4 linked regions of the Homo sapiens genome follow. The gene in region 3 interacts genetically with the main gene of each other region. Each region holds a gene or a part of one and is shown on either strand. Other genes may lie near its edges. The genes, in order: FASN, PTTG1, NSMCE1 and KIF14.

Evidence for each region.
Region 1: changes in NSMCE1 (region 3) and FASN together harm fitness more than expected from each alone (negative genetic interaction), as found in Homo sapiens cells (one large-scale study listed by BioGRID).
Region 2: changes in NSMCE1 (region 3) and PTTG1 together harm fitness more than expected from each alone (negative genetic interaction), as found in Homo sapiens cells (one large-scale study listed by BioGRID).
Region 4: changes in NSMCE1 (region 3) and KIF14 together harm fitness more than expected from each alone (negative genetic interaction), as found in Homo sapiens cells (one large-scale study listed by BioGRID).

What each region holds. Positions count from the first base shown.
Region 1 is NC_000017.11:82,086,335-82,093,906, forward strand, and holds part of FASN (fatty acid synthase), read right to left. Parts: intron 7,438-7,572; coding exon 7,264-7,437; intron 7,086-7,263; coding exon 6,885-7,085; intron 6,686-6,884; coding exon 6,563-6,685; intron 6,479-6,562; coding exon 6,363-6,478; intron 6,256-6,362; coding exon 6,121-6,255; intron 5,351-6,120; coding exon 4,888-5,350; intron 4,736-4,887; coding exon 4,548-4,735; intron 4,231-4,547; coding exon 4,041-4,230; intron 3,807-4,040; exon of another isoform or gene 3,626-3,806; intron 3,393-3,625; coding exon 3,298-3,392; intron 3,051-3,297; coding exon 2,916-3,050; intron 2,839-2,915; coding exon 2,635-2,838; intron 2,543-2,634; coding exon 2,427-2,542; intron 2,229-2,426; coding exon 2,056-2,228; intron 1,974-2,055; coding exon 1,782-1,973; intron 1,701-1,781; coding exon 1,620-1,700; intron 1,528-1,619; coding exon 1,351-1,527; intron 1,171-1,350; coding exon 991-1,170; intron 920-990; coding exon 716-919; intron 225-715; coding exon 1-224. UniProt on the Homo sapiens protein: Fatty acid synthetase is a multifunctional enzyme that catalyzes the de novo biosynthesis of long-chain saturated fatty acids starting from acetyl-CoA and malonyl-CoA in the presence of NADPH.
Region 2 is NC_000005.10:160,424,801-160,431,065, reverse strand, and holds the end of PTTG1 (securin), read right to left. Parts: intron 3,352-6,265; coding exon 3,193-3,351; intron 2,465-3,192; coding exon 2,385-2,464; 3' UTR 2,327-2,384; downstream 1-2,326. UniProt on the Homo sapiens protein: Regulatory protein, which plays a central role in chromosome stability, in the p53/TP53 pathway, and DNA repair. Probably acts by blocking the action of key proteins.
Region 3 is NC_000016.10:27,226,083-27,233,293, forward strand, and holds part of NSMCE1 (non-structural maintenance of chromosomes element 1 homolog), read right to left. Parts: intron 7,066-7,211; coding exon 6,919-7,065; intron 755-6,918; coding exon 638-754; intron 1-637. UniProt on the Homo sapiens protein: RING-type zinc finger-containing E3 ubiquitin ligase that assembles with melanoma antigen protein (MAGE) to catalyze the direct transfer of ubiquitin from E2 ubiquitin-conjugating enzyme to a specific substrate.
Region 4 is NC_000001.11:200,549,648-200,557,471, reverse strand, and holds the end of KIF14 (kinesin-like protein KIF14), read left to right. Parts: intron 1-2,017; coding exon 2,018-2,092; intron 2,093-2,865; coding exon 2,866-3,004; intron 3,005-3,704; coding exon 3,705-4,084; 3' UTR 4,085-5,972; downstream 5,973-7,824. UniProt on the Homo sapiens protein: Microtubule motor protein that binds to microtubules with high affinity through each tubulin heterodimer and has an ATPase activity. Plays a role in many processes like cell division, cytokinesis and also in cell proliferation and apoptosis.

The sequences.
Region 1 (7,572 bases), on a different chromosome or scaffold from region 3:
GCCGCTGAGCAGAGGGTCCTCTGGCAGCTTGGGCCTCTCCTGGGCCAGCACCTGCGCCAGCTCCAGCTGCAGGTTCCCGTTGAGCTGAAGCCTGCAGGCAGCCGACAACAGCCGGGGCAGTTCCTGCTGTGAGGGGTCCCGGGGGATCTGGGCCCCATCCAGTCCGGGCACCACCATCTTCAGCCCCTGCTGGGTCACCTTGGTCTGCAGTGCCTGCACCAGCCCTGGGGAGGGAGGGAGGCAGGCCTGGTGTTCCCAAAGCCCCAGGGCATCTGCCTGGCATGGGCTCTCAGACCCACTCTGTCCTTCTGGGGCCACCACCCCGCTCTGCCCACAGGATGAGAAATAGCTGAGGGTTGAGGAAGGGGCTGCCCACCACTGGGAGGCTGACTCCTGCCCACTGTGGACGCAGTGAGGGGCCGCATTCAGCTGCAGGGGCTACTCTGTGCCTAGCCAAGGTGTGACCTTAGGCTGAATCTGTCATCTTTGCCCCCAAGTACCCTTTCAAGACTGAGGAACAGTGACCAGGGACGAGGAAGGCTGGGGGCTGGGGGAGGGAGGGAGGCCGCCATCGTGAGCTCCGGCCGGAGGGTTGGGCTAGGGTTGCTGACCCCAAAGGGGGCCCCGTGGAGAAGCAAGTCTGGGGTCAACGTGAGGGGAGGCGATCGCTCCTCATCGCCAGAGGTGTCCGAAGCCAGCAGGGCTGGGACCTCACCCTTGCACAGTTGCAGCTCCTCCTGCAGGGCAGCGCGCTCAGACAGGCACCCCTCCTCCGTGTGGGGAGTGAAGCAAAACTTCTCCAGGATGGGCACCTGCTGCTCCTGCTGCCGCCGCGGGGCCGACTCAGTGTGGAGCCCGGAGATGTGGACGCCTCCGGCCACTGTGACCCTCAGCCACCTGCTCACCACCACGTCAGCCACTGTGGGGACAGGCTGGGTGAGTGCGGCATACTTGGGTGGGGGCACTGGGCTGGGGCTGGGGCGGGGCTACCTTGGGCCTTGTCCTGCAGTGTGTACAGCTTCTGCCTGTGGGTGGCAGGGTCGATGTGGATGGCGGTGACACGGGTGGGCAGGTACAGGCCGTGCTTGGCCGAGCCCAGGATGGACATCTGCAGCATGGTGTCCATGAAGCTCACCCAGTTATCCTTCCACAGCAGCCTCCCCGAGTCACCTGCACACAGGGCCTGGTTGGTGCTGTGGAACTCCCAGGTCCCTGGGGCCACCTCCCAGAGCCCACCGGGCCCCTCTGCTCCCTCCCAAGCTGCATGCCTAGCTGTGGGTGCCCTCTGTGGTCCCCACAATGACGACCGCCCTCCCCGGTGGCTTGGGCAGCAGTGTAGTCAGTACCCACCTTCCAGGCTGGCCTCCAGGATGCCCTGGAAATGAGGGCCGTAGTCGTAGCCACGCAGACGCAGCTCCTTGTAAACTTCAGCCTGGGCCAGGAAGAGGGGCTCCGTGGGGTTGGGGGTGGGGCTTTCCGGGTGGTCGAAGAGCCTGGGGTCAGGGTCATCCCACTGGTACACCTTCCCTGTGGAAAGGGAGGTGCGGAAGGGCCTGAGGACGGGCGGCATGGCCAGCGGGCACAGCCTCCGCAGCTCCCGTGCCACCGGCCCTGCTTACCACTCACTACCAGGTTGCCGTTCTCTGACACCTCGAAGGCACGGGAGGCCTCCAGGAGCCGTACCTCCAGGGACACTGTCCCTGCAGAGCGGGAGAGTTGGAGATCAGAGGGCAGCACCCGCCCCCCAGCTACCCCCGCCTTGGTCCTGGGGTACCCCTCACCAGTCTTGGGCAGGATGGTGGCCTGGTGCAGCACCACATCCTCAAACACCACAGGCAGCTGCTCGACGCCCAGGCCCAGGGCGCGGGCCAGCGTCTTCCACACTATGCTCAGGTAGCCAGTGGCGGGGAAGAGGACGCGACCGTCGAGGGTGTGGTCCACCAGGTAGTGGTCAGGAGACTCGGAGCTGGTGTCTGCGGGAGGGCACAGGCCTCAGCACAGAGCGGGCGTCTGTGGGGAGGGAAGAGTCTGCCCACCCGCCGGGCCCCTGCTCACCGATGTTGTAGATGGCGGCTGAGGGGGAACCTGAACCGTTGGGGAAGTCCTCGGCGGCCGGCACGTCCCAGGCCAGGCTGTGGTCCCACTTGATGAGTGGGGAGATGAGGGGAGTTCCTCGGGGAGCTGGGAACTCCACAGGTGGGAACAAGGCATTGGGGTTGGCGTCGATGCTACGGAGAAGGGAGGCATGGGTAGCACACCCGTCACCGGGGTCCAGGGGCTCTGGGTTCAGCCCACCCACTGCCTGCGGTGGACCATCCAGGGCTGCTGCCACCGGCCTGGGTCAGTGAGGGGCCCGCAGCCCCGCTCACCCACCCCACGCCGTCCCCGACTCCGGGAGACGAGACCCGGGCTGGGAAGGGACCCACCCTGAGAGGTGCAGCCTGCCGATGCCGGCCAGGAAGAACTCCAGGTTGTCCCTGTGATCCTTCTTCATCAGGGGGATGATGGTGCAGCTCGGCTTCAGGCCACGCTTCAGGACAGCCTGGGGGCGGCAGGGCAGGTGGGCTCTCTTGGTGCTCAGCTGAGGCGCCCATCCCAGGCTCCCGGCGCCTGCTGCCCCCAGGCTGGGCCTACCTGCAGCAGGGCGTGGGGCGCGATCTCCAGCACCACCGCGTGCTCAGGCACGTGCCACAGGGCCTCCTGGAACAGCACAGGGCTCACCAGGTTGTTGACATTGTACTCGGCGGAGGACGTGCGTGCCAGGCTGCTGTGCCACTGGGCCTCGGGGATAGAGGTGCTGAGCCAGCGGGCTGAACGTGGCTTCGGCTCCCGGATCACCTGCATGAGGGGCCAGGTCAGTGCTGGGTTGTGGGTCCCCTGGCCCGCCCCGCACCCCCCAGGCCGTATTAGTCCACCTTCTTGAGCTCCTGCAGCAGTGGGGGTGCGATGGCCTCCATGAAGTAGGAGTGGAAGGCCATACCGCCGGTCCGCACCTCCTTGGCAAACACACCCTCCTTCCTCAGCTGCTCCACGAACTCAAACACCGGGGCCTGGACATCGTGGGAGCCTGGATAAGCATCCTGGCTGGGCACCCACCTCAGGCTCGGAGAGGTAGGGCGCACCCACCTCACCCCAAGGGAACCGAGAGGGAATGGGCAAGGGACCTGAGGACAAACCTGCCCCATGCCCCAGGCCCGTCAGAGCTTGGTGGGGCGTAGACCGTGGCCGCGTGTCCCTGCCAGACTTGCAATGGCAGGCGCAGGGGACAGAGGAGCCCGCCCAGGCCGCAGCACCCACCTGAGGTCCCGAGATGGTGACTGTGTCCTTGGAGTTGTGGCAGGCGGGCACCACGCCCGGGGGGCAGCGCTGTTTACACTCCTCCCAGGACAAGCCTATGGCAGAGCCAGCCTCAGAGGCTTAGCGTGGACACCGAGCCGCTCCCAGCCACCCACCCACCCAGACACTGCCTGCAGCTGGGGGCAGTAATGACAAGTGTGGTAATGGCAGCCTTGGAGCCTTCATGAGAAAGGTTCGCCCCCTGCTGTGTTTGACCCGTGGGTGGAGGTGTCATTACAGAGCTGCCACTCCAGGGGCAGCTCCTGGGAGCCCAGTCCCCAGATGGTGGCCCCCTCAGTCCTCTGCAGCCAAGGTTCTTTCCAGGTCCTGCCCACATGTGGCCCATGGGGCTCAGAGATGGGTGCCAACAGAGGGCACCAGTCTGAGGGAACCCTGATGACCCGTGTGTTGGCTTCACCAGAGCCCCTGGGTTCTTGCTATGCTGCAGCTGTGTGCTCATCACACGGGGGCTCCACGCAGGCCTGATGCCCATGGACACGTGCCTAGGCCCAAGGCTGCCAGGTGTGGGGCCAGTGGGGCAGCTGCAGGGGACTCGCGCACGGCTGTGTCCGAGCTGGGTGTCCCCGGGCCAGCGGGGGCCACTCTATCCTACGGGGGCCAGGCCAGGGCTGCAGGTGAGGACCCCACAGCGAGAAGGCAGCCTCCTTTCTTGGAGGTGCTGGGGGCCCCTCCGGGAGACCTACCCACGGCTGCCATGGCGCCCGGCGGGAGATGGGCTTCTTTGATGCACTGTCCCCTCCAGTAGGCAGCGAGGACGGCCTCCTCCTGGGACAGGCAGCCGTCGGCGTAGCCACAGGCCACCTCCCCCAGGGAGTGGCCGACGATGCCATCTGGCCTCAGCCCCATGCAGCTCAGCAGGTCTATGAGGCCTATCTGGGGTGGGAACAGGACACTCAGGTTGCAACCTCCAGCAGGTGCAGCTGTTGGGGGCGGCCCCCGGCCCCACTAGGCCATCTCCACCCCCGCGCCCCATCGACCCTCCCAGGTCTCCTGATAGGAAAGAAGCCCCTATGGCCCCCACACAGCCCCACTGAGACCCCTCCTCCCCTCCCGTCCTGCCCCCAGCACAAGGCTCTGCCTAGCAAAGGGGCTGTCAGGGGCCCCGGACTCAACACTGCAGCTCCTGGGCTCCAGGGAAAGCCAGAGCCCTGGGGCTGGCGTTGCTCACACGCTGGCAGGCTGGGCCCTACCTGGATGGCAGTCAGGCTCACAAACGAATGGACGATGTCATCAAAGGTGCTCTCGTCTGTGCTCAGCAGCAGCTGTGACACCTTCAGGCCGAATGGCTTCACAGCCTCATCGGAGCGTAGGATGGAATCTCGGAAGCGGTCCAGGCGCATGAGGCTCAGCCCCATCCCGCGCCACTGTGTGCCCATCCCTGTCCCAGAGAGCACGTCACGAGGCTCAGCCCCATCCCGTGCCACTGTGTGCCCATCCCCGTCCCAGAGAGCACCTCAGGGGACCACCAGCTCCAGTTCGCCTGCCTTTCCCCAGGGAAGGGACCACCTTGGGGGCAGAGTGTGGGCTCACCAGAGCAGATGAACCAGAGCGGGCGCTCGCCAGCGGGCACCTGCTGCACCTCTGGGCCACCGCGCTCACCACCCAGCACAGCGTAGCCACGGAAGGGCATGGCGGTGGCGGGGACAGCCGCGATGTCGTTCAGCATGCTCAGGAAAGCCAGGTCCTGGCTGTGCCGGAGGCCCTGCTCCAGCAGCTTCTGCACGGCCTCAGGGGTGCGTCCGCTGGCCCGCAGCAGACGGGGCAGGGTGGCATGTGGGGCGGGTGCGGGGGGCGGCTGCGTGTTGGGCCTCAGGATGATGTGCACGTTGGAGCCCCCGAAGCCAAAGGAGTTGATGCCCACGTTGCCGCCACGGACGGGCAGGGGCTGGTCCACCACCTGCAGCCGCCCATCCAACAGCGCTGGGATCTCAGGGTTGGGGCTATGGAAGTGCAGGTTGGGGGCCCAGAGCCCGTGCTCCAGGGACAGCAGCACCTGCGGGGGTACGTGGTGGATGGGCAGCCGCCCCACTCCCTCTACCACTGCCTGAGCTGGGGGCAGGCACCTCCCCGAGACTCTCATGTGGGGCCAGGGTTCCAGGGCCCTCTCCGATGCACTTCCTGTCCCCAACCTAATTCTGCCATGGCACAGGGGTCCGAGGACTGAGCCGCCATGGCCCTGCCCTCAGCTTGGTCCAAGACCTCCCCTTCCGGCCTTGCTGCCTCCCAGCCTGATGTGGACCCACCAAAGCCTGGCTGTGGCCTGAACACTAAGGCCCCCTTGGCCCAGATGTTGCATCTCAGAGGCTGCAGAAGTTGGGGGGCAGAGGGCGTGAGTGATCATGGGTGTTGGGGCTCCTGTGCCTGGTCTCTCTAAAGGTCCCCAGGCCTCTGCTAGTGGGTCAGGAAGCTGTAGGGACGGGTGGGCGACACGGGAGACCCTGATGGTGCCGTGGACCCCCCCAGGCCTGCTCCTGCCTCGCTCTTCCCACCCAAGCGGCTCCTCCAGCTCGGCTCCGTGTCCGGCAGACGCTCTGCAGGGCATCAGGCCTCCAGGGAAGGCCCAGCGAGCCTGGCTACGAGCTCTCCCTGCTGTCAGCCTCAGTGCCTCTGCTCAGACCTGCAGCATAGCCCGGGGGACAGAGGCTCCTGGTGGGGAAGCCCCCGCCTCCACTTGGCAAAGAGAAAGCAGCAGTGCCCAGCCATGGCGCAACCCAGTCCCAGGGAGCAGGAGCCTGAGGGACCCCCAAGCCCAGCCCCACCTACCTTGGCCAGGGCTGCCAGCCCCGAGGCTGGCTCCGGGTGCCCCATGTTGGACTTGGTGGAGCCGATGAGCAGCGGCTCCTGGCGGGTGGCGCACAGGGCTCGGGTGATGCCATTCAGCTCCTGGGGGTCGCCCACCTGTGGGAAACATGGGGGGTGAGGGGCTCTGGCCAGGTCACCTCTCCAGGCATGGGCGTAGGTTAGGCTCATGGGGTGGTGAGTGGGGCGGGGGGGGGGGGCATCACCTTGGTGCCTGTGCCGTGGGCTTCGATGTATTCAAATGACTCAGGGGCCACTCCGGCCGACTGGTACAACGAGCGGATGAGCTGCTCCTGGATATCCCCTGAGGGGAAGGTCACGCCTGCGGAGGGCTCGGCTCAGTGCTGCAGCCCCAGCCCCGGCTCCCACCTGCCCCCCAGCACCCCGGAACCCCGGCAGAGCCCACCTTGCTCCTTGAAGCCATCTGTATTGGTGCCGGCGTTCAGGATGGTGGCGTACACCCGCCGGGCCAGGGACTTCTTGGTCAGCAGGACGGCCACCACACCCTCCGAGCGGCAGTACCCATTCCCTGGGTAGAGCAGCACCTCAGGCCCGGGGCTCAGCCCCACGCCGGCCCCCACCCCACCAGGAGGAGCTCTGGGGTGTGGGGTGGGTGCTTGGGTGGGGGATCCCCGGAGCTGGCAGGATCCTGCTCAGCGTGGGGACTGTGCGGGGGGCCGTCCTGTGCCACTGTCCCGCCTGCCCTGGCCGCGCAGCCGCACACTCACCCGCTGTGTCGAAGGCCTTGCAGGTGCCCTCGGGGCTGAGCATCCCCAGCCTCAAGAACTGCACGGAGGTGTTGGGCTTCAGCAGGACATTGATGCCCCCCACGATGGCGGCAGGGCACTGCCCGCTGTGGATGGCCTGGTAGGCGTTCTGCAGGGCCATCAGGCTGGAGGAGCAGGCTGTGTCCAGTGCGATGCTGGGCCCTGCAAGGAAGGGTGCTGCGGCTCAGGTGGGGCTGTGAGCACACGAGACCCCTGAGCACACCTCCTGCCACCAGGCTGGACACACACTGCACGGAGTGAGCCCACGCCACGTGGTTTCTGCTCAGCATGTGGGGACCTGAAGGCCACCCACCTCCGCAGGAGGCTGGGCAGGACCCACCTCTGAAGTCGAAGAAGAAGGAGAGCCGGTTGGCCATCATCGCTCGCTGGCAGCCCACCATGCTGTAGCCCACGAGTGTCTCGGGGTCTCGGCTCAGGGCCTCCGAGGTCTCAGAGCCGCTCACGCCCACCCAGACGCCAGTGTGTGTTCCTCGGAGTGAATCTGGGTTGATGCCTGCCACAAACAGTGGTCAAGGTGCCACGGCCGGGCCCCACAGCGCAGCCAGCCCACCCACCCACCCGGCTCTGGGGCGAAGGTCCCATCTTGGCCTCACTGGCTTGGGGTGAGGGGGGGTCCATCCCAGTGGGA
Region 2 (6,265 bases), on a different chromosome or scaffold from region 3:
CTTCAGTAGTAGGGGGAAATGAGCCCTGGGCTAAATGCTGCTCTGGTGATGCCTAACATTAAAGGCAAGTCTCAAATGAATCAAATTGCTTCTAGGTACCTTACCCATACTCTAGAACAAAGTTTAAGAATATTAATAGAAATGTAAAAATACCCAGCATGAAAAAAGGTAAAATCCATGGCTGGCATGGAAAGTAGAAAAATACAACTTGTAATAAGAAAGAAGAAATGGTAGCAAGATAATGGCATTCCTGACTGTTAGCTCCTACTATAAGAAGGTACAGTATCCTGAGAGGCAGGCTCAGAGGTAGTGTAGAGAAATGCAGAAGGTTTACAGAGTTGTAAAGGTATGAATAAAGTCTGTCTTATTTCAAAAAGTGTCAGAACAAAATAGCAACAACCCCCACAAGATGCAAATTATCTGTATTAATGGAGGAGCATCTGCTTAAAGTTCTCAGTCTCAGCACACATTATGCACATTGCAATCTGATTAACAGCAGATGAAAAGATCAGATCCCTCTATACTCAGTTCTGACCCAGAGGACGGCAATTAACTGGTAAGGGACTGACTAGTCCCCTTGCTCCCAGCCCTTGGTTCCCTCTACCACAAAAGACAATTTTCCAAAGCTTCAGTTTGTGTTGCAGAGTATGAAAGCCATTCAGAACTACACTTTGCTTTTTTTGTTGTTTTTGTGAGACAGCATCTCACTCTACCACCCAGGCTACTCTACCACCCACTTTACCACCCAGTGGCATGACTATAGCCACTCAAGTTGTAAGCTTGAACTCCTGGGCTCAAGCAATCCTCCTGCCTCAACCTCCTGAAACTAGGACTACAGGCATGCGCCACCACACCCGGCTAATTATTTTTAATTTTTGAGAGACAAGGGTCTCACTACATGGCCCAGGTTGAACCCAAGCTCCTGGGATCAAGCAGTCCTCCCACCTCAAACTCTCAAGTGCTGGGATTACTGGTGTGAGCCACTGTGTCCAACCTATACTTTGGTTTTCTTAGCAGCCCTATTTTACCTGAGGATGCTAAACCTATTACTCTCCCCTAAAGCCAAGTGCCCTAGTAGTCTTATGGTATTATCTTCTCCTAGAAGTCTGCCTTTCCACTAATTCCAGAAAGTCACACTGATTCAGTTGTATTTAGAAGGTAAAAAGTTTTAAAGTCAGGATAAGCGGTTGTAGGTGTTCTTAGTATTTCATGCCTAATATCCTTCAGCTTCCTCCAATGACAATGGCAAAGTGTTCACATTCTAACTTGACCATAGAAGCTACTGATATATCAAGGGAAAGACTTCTTATATAACTTAGCATCAAGCAAGGGTCAAATTCAGGTTACTACATGGCCCAAGCGAGTAAAGTGAGTTAAGTAGGCTAGGTCTCAGAAGAGACATGAAAGGTAAAAGGATCACTTCAGTTCTCACTGAGGCCATTTAAGGCAGGGTCTGTGGGATAGAAAGCCTATACTCCACCTAAAAGGCAGCAGCCTGCAATCTACCTCCAGCCCCAGCAAGTGTTGGAAACAGGGTCTACTATGGACACATCTCTTTTCAAGAGAATCTCCAAAGCCAGATTGGTGAAACACTGGAATTTTAAATAGTGGAAATGATTAAGGTTTTTAAAATATCCACCCCCTCCCTCAAAAAGAAAACCTATGAGCAACCATTTGCCATCTCTATTTTGATTCCAACCTCAGAACTGAGATCAAAATACCAGCTCTAATAATTTTCTAGCTCTTCACATCTTTGACAAATCAATGAACTTCTGCGCTTCATTGTCTTACCTGGGAAAGTGTCAAACATTAAACATAATAATGCTTCTCAAATACTCATGTCCAACACAAGGTAAACAACTAAATACAGTTTCCTATAGGTGGAGTGTAGACCTTACTATCAGTAAATTATCTCCAGTGATCTTTAAGGAATCTAATTGAAGATCCCAAGGAGGCTGAATTCTCAGATTTAGAGCCTTTCAATACTGAGTATTAAAGTCATTAGAAACTAAGTAGAACCGGCAATAAAGAATGCCCAGCAATAGATACTTAATGAGTTGGAAGTAGCTCTTCTAATTAAGAGATCTAATAACTGTCACTAGTTAATGGCCACAAAAAGTCAATAAAGTACACATTGAGGGGTATACTTTTCAGGAAAAAACAGTGGCAGCTTCTAAAATAAGCTGTTAAACCAAAAAGATTTAAGTTTTTAGACATCAGACAAATCTCTATTGTCACATTATAGACTCTTTGTTAAACACCTCAGCTAGCTTTCATGTTATTTTAAGTAACCTCCATGGAAAAGCAACCACAATACTAGGAAGAATCTGTTAAAGAATGCTTTATTAATACAAATACACACAAACTCTGAAGCACTAAGAAATTTAAATATCTATGTCACAGCAAACAGGTGGCAATTCAACATCCAGGGTCGACAGAATGCTTGAAGGAGACTGCAACAGATCTAGAAAACAGGAATCTCTTATTAAAATTTCTGCAAATCCTTGAGTCATTGTCCATATCAACATAGACATTAGCTGTCAATCAAAAATTCATGTTTTTCCCTTTGTCAAATCAATCACCTGCATCCCCTCCTGACACATTTTTTGGAATGTGTCTGTGGCCCCAGAATTGACTTTCATTAGGAAGTAAGTTTTAGAAGTATCTGAATCTCTATTGTTCTTAGAGACCAAAGTAAGAGTTAACAGTCTCACTAATGTAACTTATTAGGACAAATTATCCCACATCAGAACAAACAGAAAACATAATGTTGGCTTTGACTACCAGTTCAAACGAAGACCTCAGACCTTCTGCAGTAAGAAGTTATTGTCAGTCTATGCTACAGCACAGGTGTTTTGATCTTATATTAGCTTTGGATATAACATGGAATCATCATTCCAAGCAAGTTTATTATATATGCTTCAACTTATAGCCTAAGAAGATGTAAGTGAGAATTAATCTTTTGGCTGTAGTAAGACTATCCAGTTTCCAGAATAACAATTTTACTGGGGCATTTGGGACTGAAAAGCAATATTAATCGAGAATAGTTTATTTTTCTGAAAACTAATCCTTGTCATTTGAAGGACAGAAATTACTCACAGGCTCACCTCCCGCACAACTCTTCCCATGGTAATGGAAGTGTTATGAAACAAATTGTTTGCAGCCCTTCCAGAAGGGCACTTGCTCACTTACTGGATTCCCATGGTGGAGAGGGCATCTTCACAGGTGAAGGGGGGCCCAGCTGAAACAGCTTTTCAAGCTCTCTCTCCTCGTCAAGGATCATGAGAGGCACTCCACTCAAGGGGAGGTGCGCAATCTGGTGCTCTTCAGGCAGGTCAAAACTCTCAAAGTCTGTTACAGAGAGAAAGCGTTTTTGTCAGGGCAGCAGTTCTTAGTGTGGGCTGTAGATCCCTTGTGGTCTGAGACCCTTTGAGGGGGTCCATGAGGTCAAAACTATTTTCAAGACAATATTCACACCTTTTTCCACTGGGTTGACATTTGTAATGATGGTACCAAGGCAGCGGTGGAGAAAGCTGCTGGTGCCTCAACACAAATCAAGGCAGTGACAGTAAACCATATTAGCAGTCTCTCTGTTCTGCATCCTTCTTCGCTTGTAGTTTAAAAATGCCAGTTTCACTTACTGTCACTTCACCATATGCAGTAGAAAGTATTAATTTTATTAGCTCTCCATCCTTGAGATGTCTTTTTAATGTTCTGTGTGATAAAATGAGAAGTATGCCATAAAGCACTTCCACTGTACACCAAAATACGATTAAAAGGATTTGTGCAACTATATGAGTTGCAAGCTAAAACTAGAGAACATTTTCCTGGAATACTGTTTTTACTTGAATTAACAACTGCAAGAAATCCCATGGTCACTCAGACCTGGGTGCTTGTCACACTTTTTCTTAAAGGAATGAAAGAAGTCTATCACCTCAAGGAAAACTGACAGCCTTTGTTGCCAATGGCAGAATATAAAACGTTAAAATTTTGTCAAAAATTAAAAAATGAATATTTTTTTTTTGAGACAGAGTCTCACTCTTTCACCTAGGCTGCAGTGCAGTGGCACAATCTCCGTTCACTGCAACCTCTGCCTCCTGGGTTCAAGCGATTCTCCTGCCTCAGTCTCCCAAGCAGCTGGGATTACAGGTGCGCCCACCACACCCGGATAATTTTTGTATTTTTAGTACAGACGGGGTTTCACCATGTTGGCCAGGCTGGTCTTGAACTCGTGACCTCAGGTGATCCGCCCGCCTTGCCTCCCAAAGTGCTGGGATTACAGGCGTGAGCCACTGCATCTGGCCAAAAAAAGGAATTTTGGAAAACTTATCTGCAGTCATTAGCTTGACAGGTGCTTAGACTTTTCTGATGAGATCAGTTGTGGTATTAATGTGCTTTTGATATTGTATAATAAAGCATCTCAACATGTGGGTATCTACATATCTCAGTGAACCAGTATTTCTGAATGGTCAATGCAAGATAGATGCAAGAATATAAGATACATTCCAAGTGCAAAATAGACCAATGGATTTTACTGTCAAGATACAAAATGCTCATTGATACGGTTTCAGATTCCACATTGCAATTTTATATTCAGAAACAGCCACTTGTGGGTTTTAGTGTAGTGGCAAAAAAACCTATCCACACTTATCTGAAAAGACTATTAAAAACGTATCTGTGTGAAGCCAGGTTTTCTTCGTATATTTTAACAGATGTAAGAGTGAATATAGAATTTGATAAGAATCCAGTTGTCTTGTATTAAGCCAAATAAAGCAAATTTTCAAAAATATAAACCATGCCATTCTTCTCCAAACTTTTCCAGAACAAAAAATATTTTATGTTAAAAAAAAATTTACATTAATGTAATGTGATTACTTAGTGAATAAATATCTTAAGTTTCTCAGTCTTAATTTCTAATACAGAAAAGAGCAGATCACACAAGCAAAAGTGGTCTTCAATAATTTCTAAGAGTGTAAAAGGGTCTTTAAAACAAAACAAAAAAAAATGGAGAACCATTGTGTTAGGTAACATTCATTCTTAAAATCCAAGTACCTTACTTCTTAGCAATTATTTTTAAAAAGTGATTTTTCTGTACAGTAACAAAAGTAGGATTTAACACTGAATTTTCTTCAAGGAGCTGTTTTCTCAAAAGATTAGAAAATCATGGTTTTCCTTATCTTTGTCCGTAGGTGTGAAAGTTCTCTAAAGCCTAAGTACTCAAGAATTAGTCTGCTCTTTTACAAGCCTGGTAAAACCCAGAAGTCAAAAAGGAATTGAATGATATGTGACTATTTAACTTAAAACCACTGAATTGTAAAGGAAACCATAGACAGAAGACTCCAGAGGAAAGAAGTTTGCAATATAAGGGGAGCTAATTTTATCTACAAAGAGCTCTTTAATCAAAGAAAAACACAAACCGGAAGTTAATAAAAAAAGAAAAACTGTAAGTGGCCAATAATCAAATATGTTCACCATACACACAACAAATTTAAAACAATGAAATATTTCTTTTCTGATAAAGATTAGAGTTTTAAAACATTGATAGTGAACCTGGAGGAAGCAGACATCTTCATCCACTGTAGACGGATTTAACAATTTACACTATTTTGAAGGGCCACTTAGCAATATCTCTTTCCTGTAACACAGGATATTGTGGTCTTCATTCTTCATCAATATGCATAAATCTACCTCATTTTCCTCAATGGCTGAATGGTAATTATTAGCACGGATGCACCACATTTTATAATTTTAAAACTTAATCACACAAGCCCTTGAACTCAGCAATCCTTCTCAAAGTTTCCCTCCAGATGTACTCACAAACTTACAACAAGATCATTTCAAGAATACTAATCATAGAAATGTTTGTAGTTTCTAAAAGCCAGAACAATCTGAATGCAAATTAGTAAAATAACTACATGACCTCTTTGGCTAAATAAAAGGGTAAAAGATCCAGCTCAGAAATCCGTAAGGCCCTCCCTGATCTGATCCCACACCTCACCTGTATCCTCCTTTACCCTGCCTGTATTTTTCCTAGAACCACTTTAGTCTCTTTTCCTACCTCACGATCTTTGCACCACTTTGACCTACAATGCTGTTTTTTCTGGCTCACTCACAGTGAGATGACTTGTCCAGCATCTGACTTTCCCTTCAAATTATGGGCTCCCATAGGCAGGGCCCATCTTGTTAAACAGTGTGTCCAGGACCTAAGGATGCCTGACACACAGTAGCTTCTCCTGAAATGGTTGAGTAAATTAAAGCTTGAAAA
Region 3 (7,211 bases):
CCGAGGGCTCCCAAACTCCTGCACTCAGATCCTGCAGGTGGCGTGTGGACAGCCACAGCTTTTCAGAAGCTTATTTGCTAATGTGAATCAAAAGCTTTCAAAAAAAAAGTGCACTTTGTCCCAGAAACTCCGCCCAAGGAAATAATCACCAGGTGCCCAAGGATACAGGTGTACGAGGCCCGTAAGAGCAATTGCAATTACAAACAGCTACAGCTGCAAAACGATAGAAACTGAAAGACACATCAATGTCCACGCTGGTTCAGCGGTTGCAAAGCCCTGCAAACCAGTGTTAAGACCACTCCAGAAAGCAGCAATCGACAAGAGACACTCACTACAAAACTACCAAGATGATGCAGGTTGCACAGAACACTCAGCCTTCCTGAGAAAAATAAAGTAAGCGAGGGCCCTTGGACCCCAACAGCAGAACCAGGGAGGAGGGCGGCAGTGCGTCCCTGCGGGGCACAGCAGGGAGGCGTCCTGACACGTCCTGGGAGATGGCCTCCGCCAGCTCTTGTGGGAGGATGCGCCAGCAGTGCAGGAGGGCTGGGCCCAGAGCCAGGATTCCGGGAAGTACCTGTACAGAGCCCCGGGAGCCGAGGGCCCAGTGATGAGCTCCCGTGCCCTGCCCTGCGGGTACCTGGATGAGGAGGCTGTGACAGATATTGCAGATCTTCACCGCGTCGGGGTACGTCTCCCGGATGTATTGCTCCATCTCCAGGATGGCCCGGCCGTGCAGGGTGAACTCCCCTTCCTTCTGCAGGGACACACAGGAGGTGGCCACCCTCAGCCAGGCCCTCTCCCCATTCACCACCTCTCTTCCCTCTGTGATCCCACAGCCCAGTGCTCAGGAAGACACAAGGGTCTACGCAGCTTTTCACCAACCCCAGCCAACGGGCATCAGCCACATCCCCCTGGCAGAGCCTCGGCAAGGGAAACTGAGGCAAAGACCCTAAAGACATGGAGGCGTGGCTCCCTGACACCCGCCTTTTCTCAGCATCTGCTGTGCCTTCAGACGTGACTTCTCTGTCTGCACGGCAGCCTCGAGGGAGGCAGTCACAGCCCTCCTGCAGATGAGGACGCTGAGGCCCACAAGGGGGTCAGTCTCCCCAGGGTGCAAACCCAAACACCCACTGCTGCCATCCGCCACCCATCCCACTCCCAAAAAGCAGCATCCCTGGTGCCTCCCAGCACTTCTGCCTCCCAGCACTTCTGCCTCCAACTGCAGTAGGGACCCTCAGAGATCACTTCCAGCCACATCACTTTACAGATGGAGCTGGAAGGAGTCTGGAGAGGGCAGACAGGCCCCATCACACTGTGGGCAGTGGAGCCTCCAGTGGAAGCCAGGCCTCCTGGTTCCCATGCCAGGGTGCGGTCCACCCATCATGCATCCTGAAATCCCTGGGAGAGCCCGGAAGCACAAGAACAATGCAGCTCCCCAGGCCGACCCTACTGCCAGGTCACAGGAGAAAGGCAGCACTGAGGGAGACCCAAGGCAGGCAAATGACACGGGACCCAGGACATGGACCCATGCAGGCTGATTCCAGTTTCTCCACAGTCAGCTCATGCATCGGATATGAACCACACCAGGAGATGACGTCACTGACGCCTGCAAGTCACCCGAGTGCTCAACTGCCTTTTCTGTTATTTTCTAATTTTTAATTTTTACAAGCAAGAGCTGTCACTCCCGTTTCTTTTCTTTTCTTTTTTTTTTTTTTTTTTTGAGATGGAGTTTTGCTCTTGTTGCCCAGGGTGGAATGCAATGGCACAATCTTGGCTCAATGCAACTTCCGCATCCCGGGTTCAAGCAATTCTCCTGCCTCAGCCTCCTGAGTAGCTGGGATTACAGGCATGCGCCACCACGCCTGGCTAATTTTGTATTTTTAGTAGAGACAGGGTTTCACCATGTTAGCCAGGCTGGTCTTGAACTCCCGACCTCAGGTGATCCGCCCACCTCGGCCTTCCAAAGTGCTGGGATTGCAGGCGTGAGTCACCGCACCCAGCCCACTCCCGTTTCTGACAGGTAGAGCCCCCCACCCCATTCCCACCTTCATCCCCACAGTGCAATGTGGAGGGGTGTGCTTGCGTAATCTGGGCTCACAGTGCGTTCGCTCTGGAACACCAGTAGAGGAGCTGGGTGAGCACAGGAAGGAAGGCAGGGCAGAAGCGTGGGGTTGGGGCATGGACAGCCGCTGCGGGAACAGTGGAGGGAGGCCGGGGCACCAGGTGCTTGTGCCCTGCACCGCAGCTGTTGCTGGTGCACAGGGGCTTTGTGTCATCCAAGTGCTGTGGGCAATGGGAGGATGTGACCAGCCCCCAGGCTGTCCTCGGTCCTCAGTCCTATGGCTGTTACCTTCCCCCAAAGCTCCCAAATCCATCATGGCACCCCACCTCCCTGGCCACCGCCCTCTTCCAGCCTCCCCTCCAGATCCATCACGGCACCCCACCTCCTTGGCCCCCACCCTCTTCCACCCTCCCCTCCAGATCCATCACAGCACCCCACATCCCCAGCCACCACCCTCTTCCACCCTCCCCTCCAGATCCATCATGGTACCCCACCTCTCCAGCCCCCACCCTCTTCCACCCTCCCCTCCAGATCCATCACAGCACCCCACATCCCCAGCCACCACCCTCTTCCACCCTCCCCTCCAGATCCATCATGGTACTCCACCTCTCCAGCCCTCACCCTCTTCCACCCTCCCCTCCAGATCCATCATGGCACCCCACACCCCCAACCACCGCCCTCTTCCGCCCTCCCCTCCAGATGCATCATGGTACCCCACATCCCCGGCCACCGCCCTCTTCCACCCTCCCCTACAGATCCATCATGGCAACCCACCTCCCCGGCCTCCACCCTCTTCCACCCTCCCCTGCTCCTGCTGCTCTCTGAGCCCACTCTCCTCCAGCAACGCACTCGCTACCGAACAAGCCTGGCCCTGTCACTCCCAACTCACCCCCACCCCAGGGCTTCCCACCACCCTTAGGTCCAAGAGCCAAGCCCCTAATACGCGTATCTCCCGGGCTGCCCTCCGTCTGCTCGCCTCGCAATCTTTGTGCTCAGATGGCCCTGGCCTTAGCTTCTTGAGTGCACCTGCTGGCCACAGGGCCACTGCCGGGCTGATGATCCTCCCACCCCAGGCTCCAGGCAACTCCCACACAGCCTTCAGCTCAAGTGTCACTTCCTCAGCAGCTGAGGGCCGGTTCCTCTGGGACAGCTGTCATAAAGCCATGTTTCCTTTCCATCTGTACCAGGACTGCAGTGAGATGACCGTCTCACTGATCTCGGGCTCCCCCTCCAGACCATGGCCCCATGGGAGCGGCCACCAGCTCTGGCTGTGCTCACTCCTGTGTCCGCAGCACCTGCTGTGGGGCCCAGCACTTGGCAGGCCTGTGATAAACACCCACGGGAAGATGAAGTAGACCTTGCACTGATCCCAAAGGAATGCCTGACACTAAGCAAGTTCAAGCTCAGACTGAGGCAGGAGCTGCATTTATTTTTTATTTATTTATTTGAGACAGAGTTTCGCTCTTGTTGCCCAGGCTAGATCATGCAATGGCACGATCTCAGCTCACTGCAACCTCTGCTTCCAGGGTTCAAGCGATTCTTCTGCCTCAGCTTCCCGAGTACCTGGGATTACAGATGCCCGCCACCACACCCAGCTAACTTTTTTATATTTTTAGTAGAGACAGGGTTTCACCATATCGGCCAGGCTGGTCTCAAACTCCTGACTTCAAGTGATCTACCCGCCTTGGCCTCCCAAAATGCTGGAATTACAGGTTTGAGCCACTGCACCCAGCCAAGCTGCATTTACTGAACACCTGCTATGTGCCTGAAACTGCACCCAAGGCTCACCATTCATGACCCACTCAGTCCTCTGAGGGCCCATCAGGGGAGGGGCAGGAGGGATGCCCTAGCCCTCAAAGACGACGACAGCCCAGGTGATCTCCCAGGCGCCTCGCCACAACACTTGGAAGTCAGGACCTCGTGTAGGGAGCAGTCCTGGGGTGTATGGAGGTGCGCCGATCAGCAGACGCCCAGCTCCCATGAGCCGCGCTTGCTCTCAGAGGCCTCCCCGCTGACCCCAACCACCTACCACCCCTGGGCCTTCTCCTGGACGGACAGCTGCCTCAGCACCTCCATGCCGGGCCAGTCTCACACAGGACTGGCTGTCCAGGAGTGACGTGTCCTTGGGGTGATATACCCACCTGGAAGGGCCTTGTCAGTGGGCCCCTGGCTATTTCTGTGGGAAGCCCTGTGTCTGAGAGGCCAAGGATCAGACACTGACATGTGGTCTCTCTGATCGAGGTGCTGCCCTAGGAAGACCTGTCCTGGGTAAGTGAGCACCCGCCCCGGTTCTCAGTGATTCCTCCAGAGTGCCGCAGACCTCAAGGCAACCCTTACCAGGCCATGTAGGTCAGAGAGCACTGGACCCTCACAGAAAACACCTGGAGCTGGCAATGTCCCCATCCTGCAGATGAGGAAACAGTCTCCGCAACGAGAAGCTGCTCACCACAGGCAGCGGAGGAACCTGGAGGAGTCTCACCACACAGCCCCTGCCACATTAGCTTCGTTCCTTCGTCCTCCTGAGGGCCCCAGCAGGCCAGGCAGTCAACAAGAAGCCTCTCTAGGGCTACTGCCCAGCGCCAGTGCTGAGGGCCCCCTGCTACTTCTGCAGCGCTCCTGCAGGTGGCAGCTCCCGGATCCTCTGTCCACCCTCCCTCGAGCTCAGAGGCGCCCTGCAGAAGGTGGTGCCAGCACTGCCACCGAACTGAGAAAGGCACAGAGTACAAGCGCCTGCAGCCACAGCTCACCGCCACAGACTCCAGGGCGGGGCCTCTCCTATCCACCACCGCCCTCTCCAGACACCAAGGGCAGACAAAGGGCAAGTCAAACCATAAAGCTGGGGGCACGCCCTGCAAGCCATGCACAATGGTGGCAGCATGTGCTAGGCATGGTGCTCTTGGGTGCAAAGCAGGGTGCAAAGTGTTGTGTACTGGGATGTTGGGGCACTCGGCTCTAGGGTCTGGGATAACAGGTGACTTCAGTGGGTTTCTTTATGCATCTCAACATGTTCTAATCCTCCTGTAATGAGCAGATATTTCCTGTAACATTTTTTGTAAGTTTTAAATGCTGTTCCTCTGCAACCTCATCCACCTGTCCAGTCATCCATTCAGCAAGCATTTATTGAGCAGTTGAGGTGCCAGGCACTACATTCTGCAATGGGGACCAGCCATGAAGAGGTCATAACCCCTACCCTTAAAAAACTTGGCCTGTGGCCGGGCACGCTGGCTCACGCCTGTCATCCCAGCACTTTGGGAGGCTGAGGCAGGCGGATCACCTGAGGTCAGGAGTTCGAGACCAGCCTGGTCAACATGGAGGAACCCCGTCTCTACTAAAAATAGAAAAATTAGCCGGGTGTGATGGCGCATGCTTGTGATTCCAGCTACTTGGGAGGCTGAGGCAGGAGAATCGCTTGAATCCGGGAGGTTGAGGTTGCGGTGAGCCAAGATTGCACCATTGCACTCCAGCCTGGGCAACAAGAGCAAAACTCCATCTTAAAAAAAAAAAAAAAATTGGCCTGAAGAGGGGCTGCACCACAAGCGAGAATGGTCAGTTATAACCTGAGTAGCCCTAGAACATTCCCTAGTGCCAAATACAGCCTGGAGGGCAAGAACAACTGTGACAAAGCCATTGATGGGAGCTGCAGTCCCCAAACCGGGGCCTGAACTCGGCCCTGCCACTCTCAGGGTGTCCGACGTCATCCAGACCCCTGAGCTGTCAGCTAAAAACTAAGCTATGGAGCCACTGCAGGGCAGCAGACAGCCTCCAAGACATGACATACGGGAACGCGCCCAGCAGATCCTGCACTCACCAGGAGCTCCCAGCCCTGCCCTCACCCCATGACCTCTCCACCCTGTCTTCCCATCAGGTACCCCAGGAACTGAATTCGGGTCAGGTTCCTGGGACAGGCCCACCCTAAATAGAAATCAGTAACTCAGAACACAGACTTCCCCAACCCAGACGCGAGCCTTCCTGAAAAGGAAGCGGAGAATCGCTGCAGCCACAAGCAGCAGCCTCTGGCCACGAGTCCGACCACCAAGTGAGGAAGCGGGGACCCGGCGTGAGTGCGTCCTCAACACACATGGGCACAAGCACCTGGGAGGCACAGCTGTGGTCAACTCGGCAAACACTGAGCTGTTGAAAACAGGGGTGCCTTTTGTGGAAAAAGAACTGAAACATTTGTTCTGCTCCATTCAGCAGGACTAGACGTGGGGGTGGGGGCAACATCTAGAAACTGGAGCTGCAGTGGGGCCTGTCCCAGATGTCACAGCTCCTTTCCTGAAGCAGGTCTATGCCTCTTCTAAGCACTGGCCCTGAGGAACTCACTGCTGACAAAAACAACAGTGGTAATGTCACCAATTCCTCTGCCGCCTCCCCCGCGAGCCAGCCAGCCTAGCACCGAGCACATTACTGTGAGGTCCCATTCCCGCTCCTGACACACCCAGCCCCGAAGGGGAAACAACGACTCCCCTCTTACAAGGAACATGAGGTCACCTGGCTCAGGGTTCAGACCCGGGTTAGATGTTAGAGCCACACTCTCAGCCACGGAACTGCCCTGCCTTGCAGTCTGTGGGCTAGAGCCTTGATCCTGGGGCCCAAGTCCCTGGGCGCGGCTCCTGGCTCTGCCATTCTGGCTGTGGCATCCTGAACACATCATCTGGGTGAACGGGGAGTGGGAGGCAGGAGGAGTGAGGCCCAAGTCCTCCCCACGGGGTCACTGCTGGAATGCATGAAAGCAGATAAGGGATCCGAGAAGGCCGGGCTCCTCAGACATCAGTTGGCTACAAGTACGATTTTGGAGAAAAAACTGTTATTCACTTGAAAAAGTGAACCAGGCTGGAAAAACCATGAGACAGTACCTCAATCAGCCACTTGTTTTGAACAAACTTCTGCAGCACCTGCTCCGCTTCCTTCTTCCTCATCTTCTTGCCTTTAAGTTGATCAACCAGGTTCAATATGTTTGTGGAAGACGCAAAGCCGGTTTCTGAGTCAATAATCAGTTCCAGCTGGAAGAAAGAGCAGGTATCATGCTCATCTATTAAAATGGCAAAAATAACTTTTAAATGGTAATACCAAGTCTGGCAGAGGCACAGTAAAACCACTCAGATCACAGGCAGAACTGTACACTGGCATGGTATTCCGGGAAAACAAT
Region 4 (7,824 bases), on a different chromosome or scaffold from region 3:
AAATTGTTCTGAGGATCATATGAGATGAAGAAACAACGTATACGAAAATGCTAAAAATATAGTGCCTGGCAAATCTTAAGTCATTCATCTTACTTGCACGTGTTCTCTTTTTCTCAACATATGTCTGCCTCTCTCACTTTGTGTTTTTTTGTTTTAAAAAATAAAAACACGGCTGGGCGCGGTGGCTCATGCCTGTCATCCCAGCACTTTGGGAGGCCAAGGTGGGCGGATCACGAGATCAAGAGATCGAGACCATCCTGGCCAACTTGGTGAAACCCCGTGTCTACTAAAAATACAAAAATTAGCTGAGCGTGGTGGTGCACATCTGTAGTCCCAGCTACTCAGGAGGCTGAGGCAGGAGAATCGCTTGAACCTGGGAGGTGGATGTTGCAGTGAGCCAAGATCGTGCCACTGCACTCCAGCCTGGCAACAGAGCAAGACTCTGTCTCAAAAATAAATAAATAAATAAATAAAAAATAAAAGTAAAAACACATTGTTACTAAATTTAGGAGCTCATATTGTCACTAAATCAAGCTTGCGCTCAAATAGGCATGAGGCTGATTTCAGTTCCATAGTGCAACTTTGAAGAAAGGGATATATTGGGCTGTCAAAGGCTCATTCAGACCACCACTGACGTCTCAAATTTGGTTTTGCTCAGCAGCAGCACCATTTATCACTAAAACACTTCACCATATTTGCAAAGTGATACCACTTTTGCAGTCTATCACTATTGCAAAGAATTTCTGCTGGCAATAAGTGCAGAAGGGTATAGAATAAATTAATGAAAAATATAGATGAAATAATATGTGGGAATGTGTTTAGTAAGCTGTTGAAGTAGGTGCAGGTGTTAGCCTTGGTATTGTTTTGAGGAAATAAGCAGCAAAAGGGCCAGGCCCATCCTGTATACAATTGACCCTATCTGCATACCCTCCTTTCTCTCATTTTCTTTCTATAGTATGACAAACCTGTACTTTGTTGTTCATGGTAGGGTTTTAGTTTATCTATTCTTGTAAGTTAAAACTCCTTTAAGAACCTATAGAAGAATAAAATATCCAAAGAAATAGAAAATGAGCTGAAACATAAAAGGCATGGAGCTACAATTTTAAAGCTGGAGTCAGGAAGGAAAAATAATTTGGATATTCTTTTGGAATTTTGTTTTTTTTTAAACCACATAGAGCAAATCTGAATTAGGGCTAGGGAAGCTCTCTGTGAGTAAAGCCAATTAAACACTGAAAAAGAATCCCCTGGCAGAAATTGAGCAGGAAAGCACCTTAGGGGGCAGCATTGGATAGAATAAAAGCAAAGGCTTAGAATTTAGATGTGGGCTCCCACTCTAGTTCTCAGTCTTAGGAGTTAGGAACCAAGGTCTGTTTCCTTACCTATAAAATGAGGTATACAATGGGCAGCATAGGACTATAATGGAGAATCAAATAACAAAACATTTGTAAAGTTTTTAGAGTATAGTATTTGCTTGATATGTTACTTACCCCCTTCCAAGGGAAATTTAGAAATTTTGTATCTATAAATATTTAAGTATAACACAAAATTTGTTATAACAAATATTAGAGGGTGTCCATATTTAATATAGAAATCAATGTGCAATTTATTTTGAAAGAAATTATTAATGAATACAGGTGAATTAGACTGATTATTTTCCCATGTCACAGGTAAATAGAAAATACAGACTAAGTATATGATCAATGTGTTTAAAAGGAGAGTAATTGCTATAGCTTGAAATTTTTTATGTAAATAAAATAAATGAGAGAGATTATAAAGTTGAACTCTTAAAAGTGAAATAAACTTATTTGGAAAGAAGTCAATGTGCAATTTATTTTTGAAGAAATTTCACATGTATGATTTAAGTACTCTCAAGCTATTTAATTGCAATCCCAGAAATAGAGCTCCAATCTTTGGGCTTCTAGACTAGAATTTTTTAAAAGTCTGGTCCCATGCAATTCTATGATTTTTGTACTTCTGAATAATAAAGTATAATAAAATATTTTAACATTCTCTATAGGTTACCAAAGAAATGAAAACTAATGCCATGGGATTGATTAGATCTCTTGAAAACATCTTTGCTGAATCGAAAATTGTAAGAGAAGCTTTAAATTGATTTTAATTTTGCTTATTTTTTATCATTTCACTTGGTTCAAATGTAGATATTTTTATTTCAGTGTTTATCCTTAGCCAGAGACAACTCTTTTGTATATGTCTAATTGTAGCATGTAAGATAGCTCTTTGTCTTTTTTATGTGTGTCATAACTTACTAGTTCTAGTAGTGGATAAAGGATTGTATAGAAATTTATTAATATGTCTGTTTCTTATTGCTACTGGTTTAATAACTGTCAGCTTTTGCTTGGATGGGTCATTATAGGCTAAAAAATTGTGTTTAATAATCATTGTGCTCAAAGATTTTAAAATACAGTTGAATTAGATAGATTATTCCCATGTCACAGGTAAAGAGAAAAATTAAGTATATGATCAATGTGTTAAAAAGGAGAGTAATTGCTATGGCTTGAAAATTTTTATTTAAATAAATGAGAACTATTATAAAGTTGAGCTCTTAAAAATGAAATAAATGTATCTTTTAAAGTATTGAATAATAAATGGCACTGTTACTTTATTCCATTCTCATGTAATAGGATGACAGACTTTGAAAATTAATTGAAAATTCTGATTTCTTTTGAAAACAGTAATTACTATTGTATTTTGGTCTTGCTTATAGAAATAGAGTTAAGCACTGGTGAGGAAATTAAACTCTCTTTCTTAAAGAGAAGATTCTGGCAATTAAAATCATATTGACTGAGCCTTACTGCCATTGAGCCTGTTAATGTATTATTTTAAATATTAACTTTATTTATACAGAAAAGTTTCAGAAGGCAAGTACAAGAAGAAAACTTTGAATACCAAGATTTCAAGAGGATGGTTAATCGTGCTCCAGAATTCTTAAAGTTAAAACATTGCTTAGAGAAAGCTATTGAAATTATTATTTCTGCACTGAAAGGTATGATTCTCCAAATGGAGTTTATAATCAGAATTTTATATTTTAAGGAACCTTAGACATCTTTCCTTTTTTTTTTTGAGATGGAGTCTCGCTCTGTCACTCAGGCTGGAGTGCAGTGGCTCGATTTCAGCTCACTGCAACCTCCGACTCCTGGGTTCAAGCGATTCTCCTGCCTCAGCCTCCCAAGTAGCTGGGATTACAGGCATATGCCACCATGCCTGGATAATTTTTGTATTTTTAGTAGAGATGGGGTTTCACCATGTTGGCCAGGCTGGTCTCGAACTCCTGACCTCAAACAATTCACCCACCTTGGCCTCCCAAAGTGCTGGGATTACAGGCATGAGCCACAGTCCCCGGCTGACATCTTTCCTTTTTATTTCTAACCTTTTCATTATTTTAGTCATTAACTGAAGCCTACCCAATGCTACTTCACTGATATTAGTTACCCATATAGGAACTTGTATTTATAATTAAATTCCCACTTAATGTATGTATCAGTACTTCTACCTAAATAATTAGATCCTGAAAAACCAAGTGCTCATCTAGCAAATAAACACTTTAGTTGACTAATCTTAAGTAGTTTGGAATTGTTTTGATAGGGTCACTTTGACTTAAAAGATATCTAGAGTCTATAAAAGTCATAAATACCTGATGAAAACTGAAAAGGCTAATTAACTTTTCCCTCCTCTCTTGCATATAGGATGCCATAGTGATATAAATCTTCTCCAGACTTGTGTTGAAAGTATTCGCAACTTGGCCAGTGATTTTTACAGTGACTTCAGTGTGCCTTCTACTTCTGTTGGCAGCTATGAGAGTAGAGTAACTCACATTGTCCACCAGGAACTAGAATCTCTAGCTAAGTCTCTCCTCTTTTGTTTTGAATCTGAAGAAAGCCCTGATTTGTTGAAACCCTGGGAAACTTATAATCAAAATACCAAAGAAGAACACCAACAATCTAAATCAAGCGGGATTGACGGCAGTAAGAATAAAGGTGTACCAAAGCGTGTCTATGAGCTCCATGGCTCATCCCCAGCAGTGAGCTCAGAGGAATGCACACCCAGTAGGATTCAGTGGGTGTGAATACTGATGTGTAGGCACTTTTATGACCACCCATGAAAGAAAAAGAACACTTGCTCGGTAATTTTCTTTATGCAGGAGAGTTTAAGAGAAATCAGCACAGATATTTCAAAAAAGTCCATGTCTTTTTATCTTTAAAATATCTATTTATCAAAGGCCAGACACAGTGGCTCACGCCTGTAATCCCAGCACTTTGGGAGGCGGGCAGATCACAAGGTCAGGAGTTTGAGACCGGCCTGGCCAACATGGCGAAACCCCGTCTCTACTAAAAATACAAAAATTTGCTGGGCATGGTGGCGCGTGCCTGTAATCCCAGCTACTAGGGGGGCTGAGGCAGGAGGATCGCTTGAACCTGAGAGGCAGAGGTTGCAGTGAGCCAAGATCATGCCACTTTACTCCAGTCTGAGCAACAGAACGAGACTTAGTCAAAATAAATAAATAAATAAATAAATAAATAAATAAATAAATAAATAAAATATATTTTTATCTTTAAAGTGTTTAACATTGGTATACTGTCTGTAGTTGGTTCATTAGTCGTTTATAAAGGGTTATTTTCTCATGAGTGGAAACCTGAACAATCAGTTACCTTTGTGCCTATGCCTTCTCTCTCCTCAGACAGCTGGGATGTTTATGGTGAAATGGCCTGTACAAGTTTAACTAAGACAACTTAACTTGCATTGTTAATCAAAAATTCTTTTCTCAAAGGGTTAACTGGTTGCCATTTTGAATAGTATGTTCAAGGGTGTAGCTTCCTGTTTCTTTCCAAATTATAAGTAGCTACCTAAATATAGTATAATTATATATTAATAATATGGCTTGCTGGCACAGTAGTTTACCCTGTTATCTGTGTTTCATAATGGGGGCTGTATGAATATTATTTAAAACTAATAAAATGTTGCCAGAATTATACTAAACTGTTGGATGAGATTAGGAGATCAGAGGCTGGACCTTCTCTTGATAATGCTTGTTTTGTTAAAGGTATAATGAAATAATTTGTATATGATTTGATGAAGATTAAAGACCCTTATTTTCCACAGCTTTAAAAAAAAACCTTTATTTATGATCAAGTAATAAAGATAATATTCTACTTGTGGGATCTTACATTACGGAAATAGTTTGACGTTTTTGACCTCAAGAGTATGTATAATTTGAAGAGATACTTTGTAACTATGCTTGGGTGATATTGAGCAGTTCCTAAAGAATAATTCATTTAAAAAAAAAGAAGAAAAAAAAAGAAGAATTCATTTAAATAACCTGATCCTTTCATTTGCCCTTTTCGAATTTACAGATACTACTTGTACATTTGGCATAACTAGTTGAAATTGGCCATTCGTACCATGAATAAATCTGATAGTTTCCTTGTTAGGAAGAGATTGTAAGTAAATACAGTCATTGCAGTCAGAACAGTATTAGTGAACCTTGTGTGGTGTTTTCAAGCTCTTTAAAATGGTACAATGTAGCACATTTGCTTTCATTTCTTTTTTTATTTTTGGCATTTGACCTTGTATTCTTTCTGAAGCTCTATATGTGTTTTTATTAGTCAATAATCTGGCAAGTAGCACTTTGCCTGTGCAGTTTGCTGGAGTGTAGATGTACATATGAGGATTTCCCGGGAGGTGCACTTCTTTGAAGAACTTCCTAAAGTACCTGTATAGTAGTTTTCATCTTAATATTCAGTATTTAATCTTCAGTTTGTGCTTTGTAAACTCATGACTTAATTGGTCAGAAACTTTTTAGTGTCTTTATAAAATTTTGTATACATATTTATACTAAACACATTGTGATACTGTATTTGAATGAATGGTGAAAAAATATTTGCTATTGGAATTATGTGCACTGACAAGAAATGTTATAAAGAGAATGCCTTTAATAAATCTTTTCAGCATTAGAATTGCTTCGTGGTCTATGCTTTTTTATTTTACTGATTTTCTTTGTTTATTTTACTCTTCATTCAGAATAGCTCTGCCTTGATAATAGCTAGGCTAGTGTTGCAAATCAAGTTAATAATTAGGAAACACTAAACAAATATTAATATTGCCATAACAACTATTTTTTTTTAACATTGTTCTGCCTCTCTTTAGTTGATTATGCCTGGAATAGATTTATCACCATGTGGTATGTGTAAAGAGCATGAGCTTTGGAGTTTGACATATTTTTCACACGTTTGGAGTGTGAATCCCAGCTGGACTGCTTAGTAACTACATGACCTTAGACATGTTACTGTCTTCACTCCCATTCCTTCATCTGCAGAAAGAAAAGTAATACCCACCTCATGGACTATCTATCTATGAGCACTTAGTGAGAAAAATGTGGGAATAACTGCTGGCAAGTAGTAGACTGTTAGTGAATTTATTTTCTGTCCTTTTCATTACCAGCTACAAAACCCTTGTTATGTATATAAGATCACACTTGGTGCAGGCATATGCCATTTATAACATTCTGCCAATGTGCCAAATTGTATTGCAGTCCTTTATGGCATACCTGAAAATATATCTGCCGTCATTTTGTTCCATGATAATAAATGGACAATAAAGATAACTAAACATTATCTTACTGCTCTTAAGGTATAATGTGCTATGTGTCCTCCATGGAGTCAGTCCATCTGAAAGTTTTAGCAAAAGGCTGTTTTGTCTAGTTAGCTAACTAGCATACTTGAGTTTACAGAGCCTAACTATGTGCCAATAAGCATTTCAAGGTTTTCCCTAAATATGGAAAGTAAGAATTAATCACAGGTGAGGGGAAAAGGTATCAGTAGTTTGGTTCAGTTAAAAAAAAGCTTATGTGCCCAGCTTCCTGTGCATGATTCATCAGGTAAGTTTGTGCTCTGGATTTTGCAAGTTACAGTCATTGCATGATATAATCAAGACTGAGCTTTTCCATCTTTCTTCCTTTAGCCAATATTAGTTTATGGGATTTTTAGATGTGGAGCATGGCCATTTAGTTTGTTTTAGTATCTGATAGCTAGGTTCATTCATTCATTCTAATAATTATTTACTTAATGCTAGGTATGCTGTTGGTGTTAAGCCATAGCAACCTGAAAAAGATTAGATTGCCTCATGGACTTTTGAAAGGCCCAACTTGTTGGATCCCAGTTGTTCATAACATTATATTTTCTCGATGCCAAAGACCTCTAAACACACTAAACTCAAGTCGGGTGCAGTGGCTTATGCCTGTAATCCCAACACTTTGGGAGGCTGAGGAGGGTGAATCACTTGAGGCCAGGAATTTGAGACCAGCCCGGCCAACGTGGTGAAACCCCAACACTATTAAAAACACAAAAGTTAGCCGGCATGGTGGCGCATGGCACGCCTGTAATCCTAGCTACACAGGAGGCTGAGGCAGGAGAATGGCTTGAACCCAGGAGGTAGAGGTTGCAGTGAGCCTAGATCACGCCACTGTACTCCAGCCTGGGTGATAGAGCGAGACTCTGTCTAAAAAAAACAATAATAAACAGGCATGGCAGTGCATGCCTATAATCCCAGCTATTCGGGAGGCTGAGGCATGAGAATTGCTTGAACCTGGGAGGCAGAGGTTGCAGTGAGCCAAGATTGCGCCACTGCACTCCAGCCTGGGAGACCAAGGGAGACTGTCAAACAAACAAAAAACCAAACAAAAAACACACACTACACTCGAACATACAGGAGAACCACCAGAGAATCGCTGACTTATTCAAGACAGAATTCAGGGGTAAACTTTTGATTAAGCAAATGGCAACTGGAAACTGCATATTTCCTGTTGCTGAA